Linked DNA regions of Homo sapiens: region 1 is linked to region 2. The links come from fine-mapping of genetic effects on gene expression. A gene starts in region 2. The other region holds a variant in brackets. All regions are shown on one strand. Distances are between the middles of the regions. Region 1 has its middle 8.7 kb from the start of NOTCH3. Region 2 holds the start of EPHX3 (epoxide hydrolase 3).

Region 1 (9,837 bases), 21 kb before region 2:
GATTTGAGAGTAAGTTGTAGATATGATGTTCCTTTGCCTTCAAATACTTTGCTGTGTGTTTCCTGAGAACAAGGGTATCCTCTTTCATAAACATACTACAGTTTTTGCCCCAGTCTGTATTCAAAGTTTGCTAGTTGCCCAAATAATATCCTTTATTGGGCCAGGTACAGTGGCTCACACCTGTAATCCCAACACTTTGAGAGGCCAAGGAGGGAGGATTGGTTGAGGCCAAGAGTTCAAGGCCAGCCTGGGCAACATAGTAAGACTCCTGACTCTACAAAACTAGAAAAAATTAGCAGCATATAGTGGCGCGTACCTGTAGTCCCAGCTACTCAGGAGGCTGAGGTGAGAGCGTTGCTTGAGCCCAGGAGGTCGAGGCTGCCGTGAGCTGTGATCATCCTGCTCCACTCCAGTCTGGATAACAGAGCAAGACCCTGTGGGGAAAAAACAAAAAAATTAGTGGCCGGGCGCGGTGGTTCACACCTGTAATTCCAGCACTTTGGGAGGCTGAGGCCGGCTGATCACCTGAGGTCAGGAGTTCAAGACCAGCCTGGCCAACATGGTGAAACCCCTTTTCTACTAAAAATACAAAAATTAACTGGGCATGGTGACAAGTGCCTGTAATCCCAGCTACTCGGGAGGCTGAGGCACGAGAATCGCTTGAACCCAGGAGGCGGAGTTTGCAGTGAGCCGAGATCGCGACACTGCACTCCAGACTGGGCAAAAGAGCATGATTCAGTCTCAAGAAAAAAAAGAAAAGAAAAGAAAAAAAAAATTAAATCTTTTATTGCAATGTTTCTTTGCTGGCCCAGGATCTATCTAATGCTGCATCATGAGTTGCATCTAATCCTTTTGTTTTGAGACAGAGTCTCGCACTGTCACCCAGGCTGGAGTGCAGTGGCATGATCTTGACTCACTGTAACCTCCACCTCCCAGGTTCAACTGATTCTCCTGCCTCAGCCTCCCAAGTAGCTAGGATTCTCCTGCCTCAGCCTCCCAAGTAGCTAGGATTCTCCTGCCTCAGCCCCCCAAGTAGCTAGCCACCACACCCGGCTAATTCTAATCCTTATATCTCTTGGTCTCTTTTAATCTGAATTGGTTCCTCAGTCTTTCTTTGTCTTTCATGACACTGACGTTTTTGGAGAGCTGAGGTCAGTTGTGCAGAATGGCCAGCAGTTGTGCAGGAATGGCTGGCCTGCCATTTCCTCGTGATCAGGTTCAGGCTGTGCATCTTCGGCAGAAACCACAGAAGCATTGCTGGGTCCTCCTGGGTGCATCGTATCAGGAGGTTCCTGACATCAGTTCCCAGCATTGGTGATGTTCAGCTGTCATCACCGGGGCAAAGTTGGTCAAGTTTCCCTGCTATAAGGGTGCCATTTTCCTCCCTTTCCATCCTCCCCCTTTGTAAGGGGGATGAAAGTTGAATGACTGACCAGGGGCTAGCATCGCAGAACAGTTACCCTATAGGGAGATACATTGAGACCGTGTGAATATCCTACTGCCCAATAAGCTTTCCCCCATAGATTTTAGCATCTTTTGATTATTTCTCCTGATCATTGTTTTGCTTTCTTTTTTTGTTCGTTTGTTTTTGTTGTTGTTGTTGTTGTTTTCTTTCTTTCTTTCTTTTTTTTTTTTTTGAGACAGTGTCTTGCTCTGTTTCCCAGGCAGGGTTCCAGTGGCACAATCATAGTTCACTGCAGCCTCGAACTCCTGGGCCCAAGTGACCCTCCTTCCTCAGCCTCCCGAGTAGCTGGGACTATAGACACGCCCCACAACTCCTGGCCTTCTCTGGTGCTTTTTGTTTTAATTGAGGTAAAATTCACATAACGTAAAATTAAACATTGACCACTTTAAAGTGTGTTCATACTGTGTGACCATCACCTCTAGTTACAGATCATTTCCATCCCTGCAAACGGAAACCTCCCCATTCTCCCTCCTCCAGGCCCTCGAACCCACTAATCCACTTTCTGTCTCTATGAATTTATCCATTCTGGGCATTTCGTGTCAATGGAATCATACACTATGTAGCCTTTTGTGTCTGGCTTCTCATCATGTTTTTGGGGTTGTTCTATGTTTTAGCATGGATCCTGGCTTCCTTCCTTTTAATTTTATTTTATTAGTTATTATTATTATTATTATTATTATTATTATTATTATTATTATTATTTTTCAAGACAGGGTCTCACTCTGTTGCACCCAGGCTGGAGTGCAGTGGCACGATCTCAGCTGACTGCAACCTCCATCTCCTGGGTTCAAGTGATTCTCCTGCCTCAGCCTCTTGAATAGCTGTGACTACAGGTACTTGCCACCACACTCAGCTAATTTTTGTATTTTTAGTAGTTAATAATCCTAGTTATTTTGTAAAAATATAAAAATTTATGTTTTTAATAGAGCCTCACCATGTTGGCCAGGCTGGTCTCAGCCTCCCAAAGTGCTGGGATTACAGGCATGAGCCACTGTGCCCGGCCTTCCTTCCTTTTTATGGCTAAGTAATATTTCATTGAATGGCTATACCACACATTACTTATCCAGTGGTCCATTAATACTTTGGATGGATGATTTTTTTTTTTTTTGAGACGGAGTCTCACTCTGTCACCCAGGCTGGAGTGCAGTGGTGTGATCTCAGCTCACTGCAACCTCCGCCTCCTGGATTCAATCAATTCTCTGCCTCAGCTCTCAAGTAACTGGGATTACAGGCACTCACCACCATGCCTGACTAATTTTTGTATTTTAGTAGAAACGAGGGTTTCACTATCTTGGCCAGGCTGGTCTCGAACTCCTGACCTTGTGATCCACCCGCCTCGGCCTCCCAAAATGCTGGGATTACAGGCATGAACCACTGTGCCTGGCTGGATGGATTTTTTTTTTTTTTTTGACGGTCTCTTGCTCTGTTCCCTAGGCCGGAGTGCAGTGGCGCAATCTTGGCTCACTGCAACCTCTGCCTCCCAGGTTCAAGAGATTCTCCTGCCTTAGCCTCCTGAGTAGCTGGGGTTACAGGTGCACCACCATGCCCAGATAACTTTGTGTATTTTTAGTAGGGACAGGGTTTCACCATACCGTCCAGGCTGGTCTCAAACTCCTGACCTTGTGATCTGCCCGCTTTAGCCTCCCAAAGCGCTGGATTACAGGCGTGAGCCACCACGCCTGGCTGGATGGATGATTTTTAAAGGCTGAAAGAGAAAGAAGCAAAGGAGACAGAGAAGGATTGTCAAAGAGAGACAGCCGGGCATGGTGGCTCATGCCTGTAATCACACTTTAGGAGGCAGATGCAGAAGAATTGCTTGAGCTCAGGAATTCCAGATAAGCCTGGGCAACATAGTGAAATCCCATCTCTATAAAAAATTTTAAAATTGCCGGGTGTGGTGGCTCACCCCTGTAATCCCACCATTTGGGAGGCCAAGGCGGGAGGATCATAAGTTCAGGAGATGGAGACCATCCTGGCTAACATGGTGAAACCCCGTCCCTACTAAAAAATACGAAAAATTAGCCAGGCATGGTGGCACGTGCCTGTAGTCCCAGCTACTCAGAGGCTGAGGCAAGAGAATCGCTTGAACCCGGGAGGCAGAAGTTGCAGTGAGCCGAGATTGTGCCACTGCACTCCAGCCTGGGTGACAGAGTGAGACTCCGTCACAAAAAAAAAAAAAAAAAAAAATTAATTATCTGGGCATGGGCACACACTGGTAGTCCCAGCTACTTAAGAGTCTGAGGGGCTGGGCGCGGTGGCTCACATCTGTAATCCCAGTACTTTGGGAGGCCGAGGCGGGCGGATCATGAGGTCAGGAGATCGAGACCATCCTGGCTAACACGGTGAAACCCTGTCTCTATTTAAAAAATACAAAAAATTAGCCGGGCGTGGTGATGGGCGCCTGTAGTCCCAGCTACTCGGGAGGTTGAGGCAGGAGAATGGTGTGAACCTGGGAGACAGAGCTTTCAGTGAGCCGAGATCGTGCCACTGCACTCCAGCCTGGGCGACACAGCGAGACTCCATCTCAAAAAAAAAAAAAAAAAAAAAAAAGAAGAGGCTGAGGCGGAAGGATCGCTTGAGCCCAGGAGTTCCAGGCTGCAGTGAGCTATGATCACACCACTGCACTCCAACCTGGGTGACAGAGCTGTCTCAAAAAGAGAGAGAGAGAGAGAGTGCTAAGGATGAAAGTTGAGGCCCGGGCACAGTGGCTCACGCCTGTAATCCCAACACTTTGGGAGGCCGAGGCGGGCAGATCACAAGGTCAGGAGTTCCAGACCAGCCTGACCAACATGGTGAAACCCTGTCTCTACTAAAAATACAAAAATTAGCCGGGCATGGTGGCGCATGCCTGTAATCCCAGCTACTCAGGAGGCTAAGGCAGGACAACCACTTGAACTCGGGAAGTGGAGGTTGCAGTGAGCCAAGATCGCGCCACTGCACTCCAGCCTGGGTGACAAAGCGAGACTCTGTCTCAAAAAAAAAAAAAGAAGAAGAAGAAAGTTGAATGACTGACCAGCGGCTAGCATCACTGACAACCCCTGGTCTTGCCCTGGCTTCTCAGAGGGCAGGAGGTGAAGATGTTCAATCATTTCCATCTTACAGGTACAGCCATATAACTTAGAGAAGACAGGCCAGGCGCGGTGGCTCACGCCTGGAATCCCAGCACTTTGGGAGGCTGAGGTGGGTGGATCACCTGAGGTCAGGAGTTTGAGACCAGCCTGGCTAACATGGTGAAGCCCCGTCTCTACTAAAATACAAAACTTAGCTGGGCACGGTGGCGGGTGGCTGTAATCCCAGCTACTCAGGAGGCTGATGCAGGAGAATCGCTTGAACCTGGAAGGCAGAGGTTGCAGTGAGCCGAGATCGCACCACTGCACTCCAGCCTGGGCAACAATAGTGAAACTCCATCTCAAAAAAAACAAAAAACAAAAAAAACAGTGACTCACTGCAGCCTTTCTGGAAGAAAAGTTGAGGTTTGAAGCTAAGTCTCAAGCCAGGTGTAGCGGTGCACGCCTATAGTCCCAGCCACTCGGGACACTGAGGCAGGAGGATCGCTTGAGCCCAGGAGTTCCAGGCTGCAGATGATCATGACACTGCATTCCAGCCTTGGAGCAAGACTTTCTCAAAAGAAAAAAAAAAAACTGGCTGGGCACAGTGTAGCACACCTGTAATCTCAGAACTTTGGGAGGCTGAGGCAGAAGGATCACTTGAGCTCAGAGTTTGAGACCAGACTGGGCCACATAGTGAGACTCTGTCTCTACAAAAAAAGAAAAGAAAGAATTAGCTGGGTGTGGTGGTGTGCACCTGTTGTCCCAGCTACTCAGGGGGCTGAGGCAGGAGGATCACCTGAGCCTAGAGTTCGAGACCAGCCTGGGTAGCACAGTGAGACCCCATACACCTGTAGTCCCAGCTATGTGGGCGTCTGAGGCAGGAGGATCACCTGAGCCTAGGAGTTCCAGACTGCAGGGAGCCATGGTCGAGTCGCACCACTGCACTGCAGCCTGGCCAACAGAGTGACCTTATTAAAAAAAAAAAAAAGGAAGAAAAAGAAAAAAAATGAACCTGGGTCTCAGTGACTCCCGGCCACATGGAGTACAGGGGCGGGGTAGGGGTTGGGCAGAGGAATAACA[G/A]AAGTTGCCTAAGAAGGGGCACACACTGACTCACGGTGACTGTGCTGAGTCAAGAGGCCCATGGGGACAGGCACAGATCTAGTCCTGCGTCATGCCTACCACCCAGGAAGGAAATCCAAGGCCCTCAGTCCTGCATTTGGGCCCCTTGGGCCGGGACTGACCCTCTCCTTCCTAACCCTCCCCACCAAACCCCCAGCAAAAACAACAAACAAAAAACCATTGTCACACCATGTCAAACCCCAGATGCAACCAGCAGGCCTTGTGCTCCCATGGTCTTTGCCTGGGTGCTTCCCTCTGCCTGAGACACCCAGCTGCACAGAAACACCCTTTTGCTTCCTCCCCAAGCAGGAACTCACAGCCAGTGTGACCTCTTCAAAAATTCATTTTCTTCCAGCTAGAGGGAATGTTCTGCTGTTTCTCACACAGTTCTCACACAGGCCACCCCTTTGCCCATGCCGCTCTCTTTATTTTTTTCTTTTCTTTTCTTTTTTTTTTTTTTTTTTGAGACAGAGTTTCGCTCTTGTCACCCAGGCTGGAGTGCAGTAGTGGTGTGACCTCGGCTCACTGCAGCCTCCACCTCCCAGGTTCAAGTGATTCTCCGGCCTCAGCCTCCCATGGAATTACAGGGGCGGGCCACCACACCCGGCTAATTTTTGTATTTTTAGTAGAGATGGGGTTTCACCATGTTGGCCAGGCTGGTCTCGAACTCCTGACCTCAAGTGATCCGCCCGCCTCAGCCTTCCAAAGTGCTGGGATTACAGGCGTGAGCCACCACGCCTGGCCTGCTCTCTTTCTTTCTTTCTATTTATTTATTTACTTATTTTTAATAGAGACAGGGTCTCGTTCTATAGGCCAGGCTGGAGTGCAGTGGCGTGAACACAGCTCACTGCAGCCTTGACCTCCCAGGCTTAAGTGATCCTCCCACCTTGGCCTCCCGAGTAGTTGGAATTACAGGTGCTCAGCACCACACCCTGCTTATTTTTGTATTTTTTGTAGCGATGAGTGTCTCGCTATGTTGCCCAGGCTGGTCTCAAACTCCAGAGCTTGAGCGATCCTCCTGCTCTTGGCCTCCCAAAGTGCTGGGATTCCAGGCCTGAGCCACTGTGCCTGGCCCCTTATTTCTATTTCTGGTTACCTCCTATCCATTCTTCAGGGATACCACTCCGGGAAGTCCTCCCTGTCCCTCAGTCTGCGCTGCTCTCTCCCCGACACCCCCGCTCTCCCGGTGCCCTTTTTCTCCATGGCTCAGCCTTGTTCACAAGGGGTTGGGGGTGTCTGTACCCTGGTTTGTCCCCTATTTAAAGACTAAGGGCTGGCTGGGCACAGGGGCTCATGCCTGTCATCCCAACACTTTGAGAGGACGAGGGGGGTGGGTCACCTGAGGACAGGCATTTCAGACCAGCCTGGGTAACATGGTAAAACCCTGTGTCTACAAAAAACACAAAAATTAGCTGGGCATGCTGGTGCATACCTGTAGTCCCAGCAATTCAGAAGACTGAGGTGGGAGGATTGCTTGATCCTGGGAGGTGGAGGTTGCAGTGAGCTGAGATCGTGCCCCTGCACTCCAGCCTGGGTGACAGACTGAGACCCTGTCTCAAAACAAAAACAAAAAACAAACAAACAAAGGACTGAGGGCTCCTTGGGGGTTAGACAGAGGATGAGGCTTCTTGAGGGTCCCAGCATCCCCCAGCATGGAGTGAGCAAAAAGCAGGTGACGTAGGACGGTTTGGTGACTCAGGAAGGGGCTGAAGGAGCTGGGAAGCCCAGCCCAGAAGAGCCACTTCAGGGCCGGGCGAGGTGGCTCACGCCTGTAATCCCAGCACTTTGGGAGGCCAAGGTGGGCAGATCACGAGGTCAGGAGATCGAGACCATCCTGGCTAACATGGTGAAACCCCATCTCTACTAAAAATACAAAAAATTAGCCGGGCGTGGTGGCAGGTGCCTGTAGTCCCAGCTACTCGGGAGGCTGAGGCAGGAGAATCACTTGAACCCAGAAGGTGGAGGTTGCAGTGACCCAAGATCGCACCACTGCACTCCAGCCTGGTGACAGAGTGAGACCCTGTCCCCCGAAAAAAAAGCCACTTAGCCACTTCAGGGGCCTCAAACCACTCTGTTCAGTATAATTTTGCAGGCGGGGGTGGTCTATGGTTCCACAGAAGGGTCTAGGGATTGAGGGGCAAAGTTAGGGCCCTCAAGGAAAGGCCAGCTCCTCCCTTGGCCCATCTGAGAAGGGGCTTTCTTTCTTTTTTTTCTTTATTTTATTTATTTATTTATTTATTTTGAGACAGAATGTCATTCTGTCACCCAGGCTAGGCTGCAGTGGCTCGATCTCGGCTCACTGAAACCTCCGCCTCCGGTGTTCAAGCGATTGAGAAAGGGCTTTCTGCTGGAATGGATGCTGTAGGAGGTGCTGAGCTCCTCATCACTAGGAGCAACCAAGGACCCTGGACACACATTTCACTAGGCAGGAAGTTCAGAGTCTGTGACTGCTGATACAGCACACCCTGATCTGTGGGAGAGGGGGAAGTAACGGTGAAAACCCAGGCAGAGGACTTCACGGGGGAATACAGACTAAAAGAAGAAAGACCCGGCCAGGAGCGGTGGCTCATGCCTGTAATCCCAGCACTTGGGGAGGCTGAGACGTGCGGATCACTTGAGGTCAGGAGTTCGAGACCAGCCTGGCCAATATGGTGAAACCCCATCTCTACTAAAAATACAAAAATTAGTCAGGCTTGGTGGCAGACGCCTGTAATCCCAGCTACTTGGGAGGCTGAGGCAGGAGAATCACTTGAGGCAGGAGAATCATCCCTGCAACCCAGGAGGCAGAGGTTGCAGTGAGCCGAGATCGCACCACTGCACTCCAGCCTGGGCAACAGAGCAAGACTCTATCTCAAGAAAAAAAGAAAAAGACCCCGCCGGGTGCAGTGGCTCAAGCCTGTAATCCCAGCACTTTGGGAGGCCGAGGTGGGCGGATCACAAGGTCAGGAGATTGAGACCATCCTGGTTAACATGGTGAAACCCCGACTCTACTAAAAATACAAAAGAAATTAGCCGGGTGTGGTGACGGGCGCCTGTAGTCTCAGCTACTTGGGAGGCTGAGGCAGGAGAATGGCGTGAACCTGGGAGGTGGAGCTTGCAGTGAGCAGAGATTGTGCCACTGCACTCCAGCCTGGGAGACAGAGCGAGACTCCATCTCAAAAAAAAAAAAAAAAGAAGAAGAAGAAAGACCCATCTACAAAGCACCCGCTCAGCCGAAGATGGGGTCTCAGCTGCGGGTTCCTGCCACTGCCCTCCAGCCACGGTGGTGGGACCCACCCAAGGTGTCCAGATCCCTAGGGGACTGGGCAGTCGGAGCAACCCTTCCCATGGCCTTGCAGCTGCGGCCGCACAGTTCCCAACATGGTGGGGGTGGGCTTGAGCCCCCTCCCCGGCCCCTGCTGGCTGCCTTGGCTGGGGACTGCATTTCTCCTCCATGAGCTCAGTCCCTGGGGACGCGGGACCTGGGGCCAGGCCAAGACACAGCTGCCGGCCCGCTGACCGGGAACCTGAGAATGTGCCCTTGGCTTCTCCTCTTGGGACTACAGTCCCGCCCTCTGCGCGGAAGCTGGGGCCAGGTTCTCGAGCCAGGCAGTGGGCTGTGGGAGCCTAGTGAGAACCAGCAGGAGTGAGGGCAATTGAGTGTGGGCCTTCGGCAAGTGTGGGGAGGCTGGACCCAGCCATGTCCCCTGGACACTGCTTCCCTGGGACACTCCGATGCTTGAAACTTCCATGGCTCCCCATTGCCTGAAGTGACACAATTCCTCCCCACCTCATCAGCTTCATCTCCCTGCCTCTCAGCCTTGTCAGCCTTTGCATGCAGAGTTCCCACTGGTAGGAAAATGCTTCTCATACTACAAAGGCTCCTTTCCCCTGGCTGCTCACTCTGAACCTCCAGCTCTTCTCACCTTCATTCAGTCATTCAACAAACATTTACTGGACACCTACTTGGTGCCAGGCCTTATTGTAGACAGAGGTGACCCAAGACAGAGCCAGTTCCTGCCCTGAGAAGGGAAGCAGACAAGAAACAAATAGGCAAACAAGAACCATCAAGGTTGAGTGCAGTGGCTCACGCCTGTAATCCCAGCACTTTGGGAGGCCAAGGAAGGAGGATCACTTGAGTCCAGGAGTTCAGAACCAGCCTGGTCAACATAGCGAGACCCCACCTGTCTCTTCAGAAGAAAAAAAAAAATTTTTTTTTGAGAT
Region 2 (8,779 bases):
TACTGAAAATACTAAAATTAGTCAGGCCTGGTGACGCTCCTGTAGTCCCAGCTACTCGGGAAGCTGAGGCACAAGAATCGCTTGAACCCGGCAGGTGGAGGTTGCAGTGAGCCTAGATTGCGTCCACTGCACTCCATCCAGCCTGGGCGACACAGCAAGACTCTGTCTCAAGGGGAAAAAAATGAAATACAGCTGGTGGGACTGAGCACTGCATTTTCATTGTATTTCATTTCAATTAACATACATTTAAGCTGAAGTAGCCAAATGTGGTCAGCAGTATTGTATTCAGAGTAGCACTGAGCTGAAGACCCAGGCAGGAGGTCGAAGGCAGGGACAGGAAGGTCAGGGTTTAAGGTCTGTGCAGCTATGGCAGAGAAGCGACTTTGGCAAAGCGCAGAGTGAGGCCCCAGGAAGGGAGGAGGTGGGACACTCGGTCTCGGCATCTGGCTCCACTGGAAGAGAGGTATACCCAGTTCCCAGGGTCAAAGTGTTTGTTACACACACATGCATCCATGCCTGTGTGTGAGTATAGGGGTTGGTGTGTCCCGAGGCACCCATAGGTGCGCTTGTGTGGGATCCAGGAGTCCCATGCCTATGAGCGATTCAAGAGTTCACCCATGTATGGACATTGTATGGACTCCCAGGCACACACAGATAATGGGTGTGTGTTCCTTCCTGAGTATCCATGCCTCCTGGGCAGGCCAGCAAGGACCACTAGTCCAGCAGGTCTTGCAAGAAGGCCCACATGTACTGGTGCATCTCCTGGGGGTTGCTCTGTGGGATCCAATGCCCTATGCCTGGCAGGATGTGGGCCTCCAAGCGGCCCGGCACAAAGCGGCTGCCGATGGCTTCCACCAGCCCCAGCTCCAAGTAAGTGTCCTTCTCCCCCCACAGCAGCAATGTGGGTGTGGTCAGCTCCTGGGGTTCCAGGGGGAAGTTCCTGTGGCCAGGACAGACAGACAGGCAGACAGACAGGCAGAAGGATGGTTGCCTCCCACCCCCCTGCCCCTGCAAATCTCCTGAGCTTATGCTTGGCAACTGGTCTCACCTGAAGAGGTTTCGGTAGTAGTTGAGGGGCCCAGTGAGGCCACCAGGCTGTGAGAAGTTATAAAGGAAGGCCTCGAGCTCGCTGGGGGTCAAGCATGGGATGCCTGTCTTGCGGTGGGTGAGGGTGGTCTTCAGAATCTAGGTACACAGCAGGACTCTGGCTTCAGTGCCCAGCCTGCCCAGCCCCGACCTGCTTCCCTCCTCCCTTCAACCTGCACCCTCTGTACCTGAAAGTCAGACATAGACAGCAGCTTCTCGGGCAGCCAGGGCAGCTGGAACAGGAACATGTAGTGGGAACGGAAGAACTGGCTGATGTGGTGCAGGGAATAGTCTGGGGTGGGAGGGTTGGGGGAGAGATATAAGGCCTGCTCCTGGGGTGGCCCCATACACCTGCACCCCTACACATACCCAGGTCAGGGACACAAGCCTCAGGAATGCCACTGCTGCCTGCCTGGGTCTGTGAAGGTACTAGATACCCCTCCTGGCCTGGGCACCAGCTACATTCCCTCCTGCCATGTTTCACTATCCACAGGATGGGGGCATCTCCTGGGAACCCCCATATCCAAAGGTGTGCTTCCTCTGCCCAGGCCAGGGTGCGTTTCCTCTGCTTTATTCAGCTAACATTTATTGAGCAACTACTGCATGCCAGGCCTTGTTCTAGACACAGCAGTGAATGAGACAGTCAAAACTCCCTGTTCATCCTAGGCAACTTAAGGAAACCCCTGTATCTATAATTTTTTTTTTTTTTTTTTTTTTTTTTTTTTTTTGAGACAGAGTCTCGCTCTGTCGCCCAGGCTGGAGTGCAGTGGTGTGATCTTGGCTCACTGCGAGCTCCGCCTCCCGGGTTCACGCCATTCTCCTGCCTCAGCCTCCCGGTAGCTGGGACTACAGGCACCCGCCACCACGTCCGGCTAATTTTTTTTGTATTTTTAGTAGAGACAGGGTTTCACAGTGTTAGCCAGGATGGTCTCGATCTCCGGACCTCATGATCCACCCGCCTCAGCCTCCCAAAGTTCTGGGATTACAGACGTGAACCACCGCACCCGGCCTCCAAAAAATAATTTTTTAAAAATTAGCAGGGTGTGGTGGTGTGTGCCTATAGTCCCAGCTACTTGAGAAGCAGAAGTGGGAGGATCGCTTGAGCCCAGGAGTCTGAGGCTGCAGTGAGCTGCAATTACAGCACTGCACTCCAGCCTGGACCACAGAACAAGACTGTCTCAAAGGAAAAAAAACAAAACACAAAAAAAGACACCCCCAAAAGACAAAAAACTCCCTGCCCTCAGGGAGCTGACAGTCTAGATGGGGAGACAGACAAGTAAACAATAATAGGCTGGGTGCGGTGGCTCACGCCTGTAATCCCAGCACTTTGGGAAGCCAAGGCGGGTGGATCACTTGAGATCAGGAGTTAGACACTAACCTGGGCAACATAGTGAAAACCCGTCTCCACTAAAAATACAAAAATTAGCTGGGCGTGTTGGGGCATATCTGCAGTCCCCGCTACTCTGGAGGCTGAGGAAGGAGAGTCACTTGAACCCAGGAGGTAGAGGTTGCCAGGCAGGGTGGCTCACTCCTGTAATCCCAGCACTTTGGGAGGCTGAGGCCGGCAGATCGCTTGAGCCCAGGAGTTCAAGACCAGCCTGGCCAACATGCTGAAACCCCATTTCTACTAAAAATACAAAATAATTAGCCGGTCATGGTGGCACACATCTGTAGTCTCAGCTACTGAGGAGGCTGAGGCAAGAGAATCACTTGAACCTGAGAGGCGGAGGTTGCCGTGAGCCGACATTGCGCCACTGCACTGCACAGAGTGAGACTCCATCTCAAGAAAAAAAAAAAAAAAAGGGGCCAGGCGTGGTGGCTCACGCCTATACTCCCAGCACTTTGAGAGGCCAAGGTGGGCAGATCACAAGGTCAGGAGATCAAGACCATCTTGGCCAACATGGTGAAACCCCGTCTCTACTAAAATACAAAAAATTAGCCCGGCATGGTGGCCTGTAATCCCAGCTACTTGGGAGGCTGAGGCAGGGGAATCGCTTGAACCTGGGAGGCGGAGGTTGCAGTGAACTGAGATCACGCCACTGCACTCCAGCCTGGCGACAGAGCAAGACTCTGTCTCAAAAAAAAAAAAAAAAAAAAAAAAAAGAAAAGAAAAGAAAAAGAAAAAAAACAACAAAAGAGAGAGAGAGAGCACAGTTATGACCACAGTGCTGCATATTAACATCAGGTGATATGATAGACATTGTTAACCTCCCCAGCCTCAGTTTCCTCCAGCTGGAACATGGGGATAATACAACCTTCATAAGCCCAGGAGCCTTAAGTAGGTTACTGTGTGCATATTCCTTGTTACTGTAAGTGCTATAAAAAAATGTGGATTACTCCTAAGTGTATTGTGATTTATTTTATTTTATTTTATTTTTGAGACAGAGTCTCACTCTGTCATCCAGGCTGGAGTGCAGTGGTGCGATCTTGGCTTACTGCAACCTCCACTTCTCAGGTTCAAGTGATTCTCTTGCCTCAGCCTCCCGAGTAGCTGAGACTACAAGCGTGCACTACCATGCCTGGCTGATTTTTTTGTATTTTTAGTAGAGACGGGGTTTCACCATGTTGGCCAGGCTGGTCTTGAACCCCTGGGCTCAAGCAATCCACCGGCTTTGGCCTCCCAAAGTGCAGGGATTACAGGCAGGAGCCACCACGCCTGGCCATACTTTATTTTATTTATTTATTTTTTGAGATGGAGTTTTGCTCTTGTTGCCTAGGCTGGAGTGCAATGGCATGATCTCAGCTCACTGCAACCTCCACCTCCCAGGTTCAAGAGATTCTCCTGCATCAGCCTCCCGAGTAGCTGGGATTACAGGCATGCACCACCAATGCCTGGCTAATTACATTTTTTTTTTTTTTTTGTAGAGACAGTTGGGGTCTTGCTATGTTGACCAGACTGGTCTTGAACTCCTGGCCTCAAGTGATCCTCCCACCTCAGCCTCCCGGAGGGCTGGGATTACAGGTGTGAGCCACTGGGTCTGGCGTGTCATTAATTTCCGAATGAGGAGTTCCACAACCGAAGGGACCTGGGTTGATTGCTGCACCCTCAGCCCCTGATGTGTTGACAGGTATACAGAGAATTGAAAACACAGACACATGTCCCTGCCCCCTTGCACATAAGTACATCCCAGTGTCCCGGACTCCCACACACACCTTGGTACACCGACATGGGGGCACCACTGACCACAACCATCCGCTCGACCAGGGATGGGTAGTAGATGGAGAAATGCCAGGCAAGGAGGGCACCCCAGTCATGGGCCACAAGGATGCACTTCGAGTAACCTGTGGGAATTCAAGGAGCTCGCATAAGTGAGGTGCCCAGTAGGACTGAAGCAGGGATGGGGGAAGTAGGTTCCAGCAAGGAGAAAGCGGGGGTATGCGTGTGTGCAGGATGAGGGAGGCCACGCCTAGGATGGGGGTATGTCTGCACCCAGGCCTAGGATGACATCTTTGATGTCCACCAGCAGCAGGTCGATTGTGTAGCAGTCCACATCCCGAGGTGCATCCGAGGGGCCATAGCCTCGCAAGTCCACAGCCACAACATGGAAGCGGCTCTGGAACTCCCGGAGCTGGTAACGCCAGGAGAACCTGCCAGGCGGGCGAGGGAGGGAGGCTGAGTCAGGGCCCTCAGGTTGCACCTGCACCCTACGCACATCAGCAACCATTGGCAAACCCTCCTTCCTGCTCTAAACTTCCCCTAAAAGGAGGATGGGGAATCCCAGGCAGAGGCAGAGGCTGAGGCTGAAGCCAGCTACACCCTGAATCCAGGGAACTTCAATCAACCTCAATACCCCTTTGTCCTGTCCCTTCAGGGCCTAGGGATCCTGGGTATGCTGGCTCAGTACCCCTATCCCCATCTATGTTCAGCTTGTCCCGATCTATACAGCCCTCCTCCCTGCCTCTTGGGAGCCCAAGCTCCACCTGCCCCCGAGTCCCGTGGGCCTCAGGCCCCTGGCCCCAGACGTACCAGTTCTCAGGGAAGCCGTGCAGAAACAGCATGAGGGGTCCGTTACCTCGTCCAGCCGAGACATAGTGCAGACGCAGGCCCGAGCTCTAGGGGGAGGGCACAGCCTGAAGCCTGGGGAACCCTCTCTCCCGAGGCTTGAACCGTCTCGACCCCACGCGACCCCGCAGCCCCGATAGCGCCCCCGTGCGATCACCTTGAGGTTCAGGAAACCGTGCTCACCCAGCGAGGGGTCGCTCAGGCAGGCGGGGGACGCGCTCCGACGGCGCCCGCAGCAGCCGCGCCGGGGCCGGCACAGCACGTGCGTGAGCGCTATGCAGCCGTAGACCGCCGCGGCCACCAGCGCCACCGAGAACACCAGGCTCCACATGAAGGCGCGCAGCAGCTTCAGCGACAGGCGCGACGGCGCCAGCAGCGCGGTCACCACCAGCTCCGGCATGTCGCCGCGCTCCGGGACCACGGCGGCGCTGCCGGCCAGGGGCACCTGCAGCAGCGGCGAAGCGGTGTCAGGGCTCAGGGGCCCATCGCCCTTGGCCTGGGGCCCCTCCGTGCCGTCGGGATTTGTGGGACGCGCTGAAGGAAGAGGCGGGCGGCTCCGACAGAAAACAGCCAGAGCGCACCACTCACCTGAGTGCCAGGTAAACACCTGGGCGCGACAGGGACAGGAAACAAGGGTAGGGTGCGGAGGCTGGGGAGGAAGAGGTTGGAAAGGGGGGAAATAAATGGGCGGGGCCTAGCAGGTCCTGTGCGGGGCTTAGGGCCGGGGCGGGGCCCAGGAAGACTCAGCAGCGGGTGGGTGAGGGTCTAAAGGCGGCAATTCCGGGCCGGGTGCGGTGGCTCACGCCTGTAATCCCAGCACTTTGGTAGGCCGAGGCGGGCGGATCACCTGAGATCAAGAGCTCGAGACCAGCCTGGGCAACGTGGTGAAACCCCGTCTCTACTAAAAATACAAAAATTAGCTGGGCGTGGTGGCGGGCGCCTGTAGTCCCAGCTACTTGGGAGGCTGAGGCAGGAGAATCGCTTGAACCCGGGACGTGGAGGTTGCAGTGAGCTGAGATCGCGCCACTGTACTCCAGCCTGGGTCACAACAGGGAAACTCCGTCTCAAAAAAGAAAAAAAAAAAAGGCAATTCCGAGCCCAGACAAACCTTAAGGAGGGGATCCTGGATCTTCAGTTAAGTGGGCGACACCTGGAGTGAGGGGCGGGGCATATGCAGAGTAGGTGCGGCCTACAAGCCAAAAAGGAGAAAGAGTTGGAATGGTGGGCCTGGCTTATGCGGGTGGGCGGGGAGAGGGTGGATCCTAGAGGAGGTGAGGCCTAACATTGGGCGAAGAAGGCGGGAGCCTGGGCCAATGAGCTGACGGTAGGCCGGGGAGGGGGCGGTGGGGTGGGGTGGGCAATGGGCAATGAGACGGAGGGCGGGGCCGGGACCTAATATGGCGGGTCAGGAGGGTCTGGAAGACGAAGAAGAGGGACAGGCAATGCCAGGTCTAGGACTAGGAGGGAGGCGCGGGCGGTATTAGCGGCTGGAGGAGGCTTCGGGAGGCCCGGCCGACGGCCGCCGCCTGGTGCTACCCACCCAGGGGCGCGCGACCCTCCCTTCGGTCTGGCTCCAAAGACCTAGCAGCACTGACTTCACCCAGCTGTGGTTCCAACGGCGGGTCCAGCGGCCTCGGCCCGGCGCCGTCCTCCTGCTGGCCCAACAGGCCCGCCAGCCCGCCCCTGTACGTCTGTGATTGGACGGCGGCGGCCACTGATGTTCAAGCGACAGGTCCTGGCCCGGGAGCCAATCTGCAGGTGTTGAGGCCCAGGCTCCGAGAGCGGGCCGAGGAGGCGTGGATACCCTGATTCCTAGGGGGCAGGCCTGGTTCCCCCGAGGAGGACCCGGCCTATGAATGACTGGAGTTCTGGGGTTCTGGCCGAAAGAGGAAGTGGGACAGGGCCGGGTGTGATGGGGCCTAGAGTCACAGAGCCTTGCGGCCCTGCTGTCCCTGCAAGAAGCCAGCTTCTGGCCAGGCGCGGTGGCTCACGCCTGTAATCCCAGCACTTTGGGAGGCCGAGGCGGGCGGATCACGAGGTCAGGAGATCGAGACCATCCTAACATGGTGAAACCCTGTCTCTACTAAAAATACAAAAAATTAGCCAGGCGTGGTGGCGGGCGCCTGTAGTCCCAGCTACTAGGGAGGCTGAGGCAGGAGAACGGCGTGAACCCAGGAGGCGGAGGTTGCAGTGAGCTGAGATTGCGCCACTGCACTCCAGCCAGGGCGACAGAGCGAGACTCCGTCTCAAAAAAAAAAAAAAAAGCAGCCAGCTTCTTCCTCCTATTTTGCAACCTTCTCCCGATATCCTTGAACATTTTAGGGACAGCCATCACTTAACCATAGAGCAACCCTATTAAGTCTAAGTAGCATAATCACATTCCTGTAGTATAGATCATGAACCTGAAATTCGAGGATGAAGTCATTTGCCTGAAGACATACATCTTGTAAAATAGCCATCCGCAAAGATGTAGGGAAAAAGGCAGCGATCTGTGGCTACACCTCCCCTTCCTCCCGGAAGCAGCCACTGGAACGTTTTTAGCTTTTTCTTTTTTTTTCAGATGGAGTTTCGATCATAGCTCACTGCAGCCTCGAACTCCTGGGCTCAAGCACTACAACCTGTAGTTGGGACTACAGGCCTGTGCCACCACACTCAGCTAATTTTTCAAAAACTTTTCAGAGAGACGACTTGCTATATTGTCCAGGCTGGTCTCAAACTCCTGGCCTCAAGCAATCCTCAAGCCTCCACCTCCCAAAGTGGGATTACAGATGCAAGCCACCGTGCCTGACCTTTATTTCTTGACTTAACCAATGTATGACATCAGCCACTGACTTGCTCACATCACTACCCCGGACGTGCCGTTTTTTGTTTCCCTGTTAGTTTCCTTTAAAAACACTCCACTTGTCACCTCTTGCCCCTTTCCACCTCCCACTTTTATCCATATACCTTTGTACTGTCAAGGCTGCTAAACATTATACTGTCCTGGGACCATAACTAAGTCCATGAAGTTGCCACTTAAAGGTGAATAGTGGTTTATGTTCTGCCTCAGTGAACAATGCATCTCAAGAGCCGAATAGACCACTATGATTACATTGCCCATAGTGTACAAACTTTTGTTCTCCCTGGACTACTTAACCACTACCTTTCTTTTGTTGTGTGATTAGCCTACATCAAAGCTTTGGGGGTTTTTTTGTTTTTGTTTTTTTTGAGATGGGAGTCTCACCATATCACCCAAGCTGGAATGCAGTGGTGTGATCTCGGCTCACCGCAACCTCCGCCTCCAGTGTTCAAGCAATTCTCCTGCCTCAGCCTCCGGAGTAGCCGGGACTACAGGTGTGTGCTACCGCGCCCCGCTAATTTTTTGTATTTTTCAGTAGAGATGGGAGTTTCACCATGTTGGCCAGGCTAGTCTCTTAACTCCTGACCTCAAGCGATCCTCCCACCCCGGCCTCCCAAAAGTGCTGGGATTACAGATGTGAGCCACCGTGCCTGGCAGCTTTTTCTTTTACACCTTCCATTAAATCAATTATCTCACAATTTGATGTTCCCAGGATCTCTCCCAACCGACTCCGCTAATCTGGACGCATGGGTGGTGGGTGTCTGGGGAACCTCCCTTCTTCCTCTCCTACACATCACTGACCCCCCGCCCTCATCTCCCCGCTTCTCCCAAGTCTACCCTCAAACAAAAAG

Evidence for each region.
Region 1: its variant is fine-mapped to the expression of EPHX3 in whole blood (TOPMed, PIP above 0.99). The same link has a PIP of 0.9 or more in blood mononuclear cells.

Annotation. Positions count from the first base shown.
Region 1 is chr19:15,204,815-15,214,651 of GRCh38, forward strand. No RefSeq gene overlaps it. Among named protein-coding and RNA genes, the nearest start is that of NOTCH3, 8.7 kb to the left of the region's middle. The variant G/A (reference allele first, on the strand shown) is at 5,596.
Region 2 is chr19:15,226,723-15,235,501 of GRCh38, forward strand. EPHX3 (epoxide hydrolase 3) reads right to left here and starts at 5,726. Exons shown (of 7, transcript NM_024794.3): 1 at 5,247-5,726; 2 at 5,054-5,139; 3 at 4,517-4,674; 4 at 4,240-4,368; 5 at 1,275-1,378; 6 at 1,049-1,185; 7 at 197-940. The coding sequence starts at 5,489. The coding sequence ends at 715. RefSeq lists an enhancer at 5,476-5,977 and a silencer at 6,316-6,475.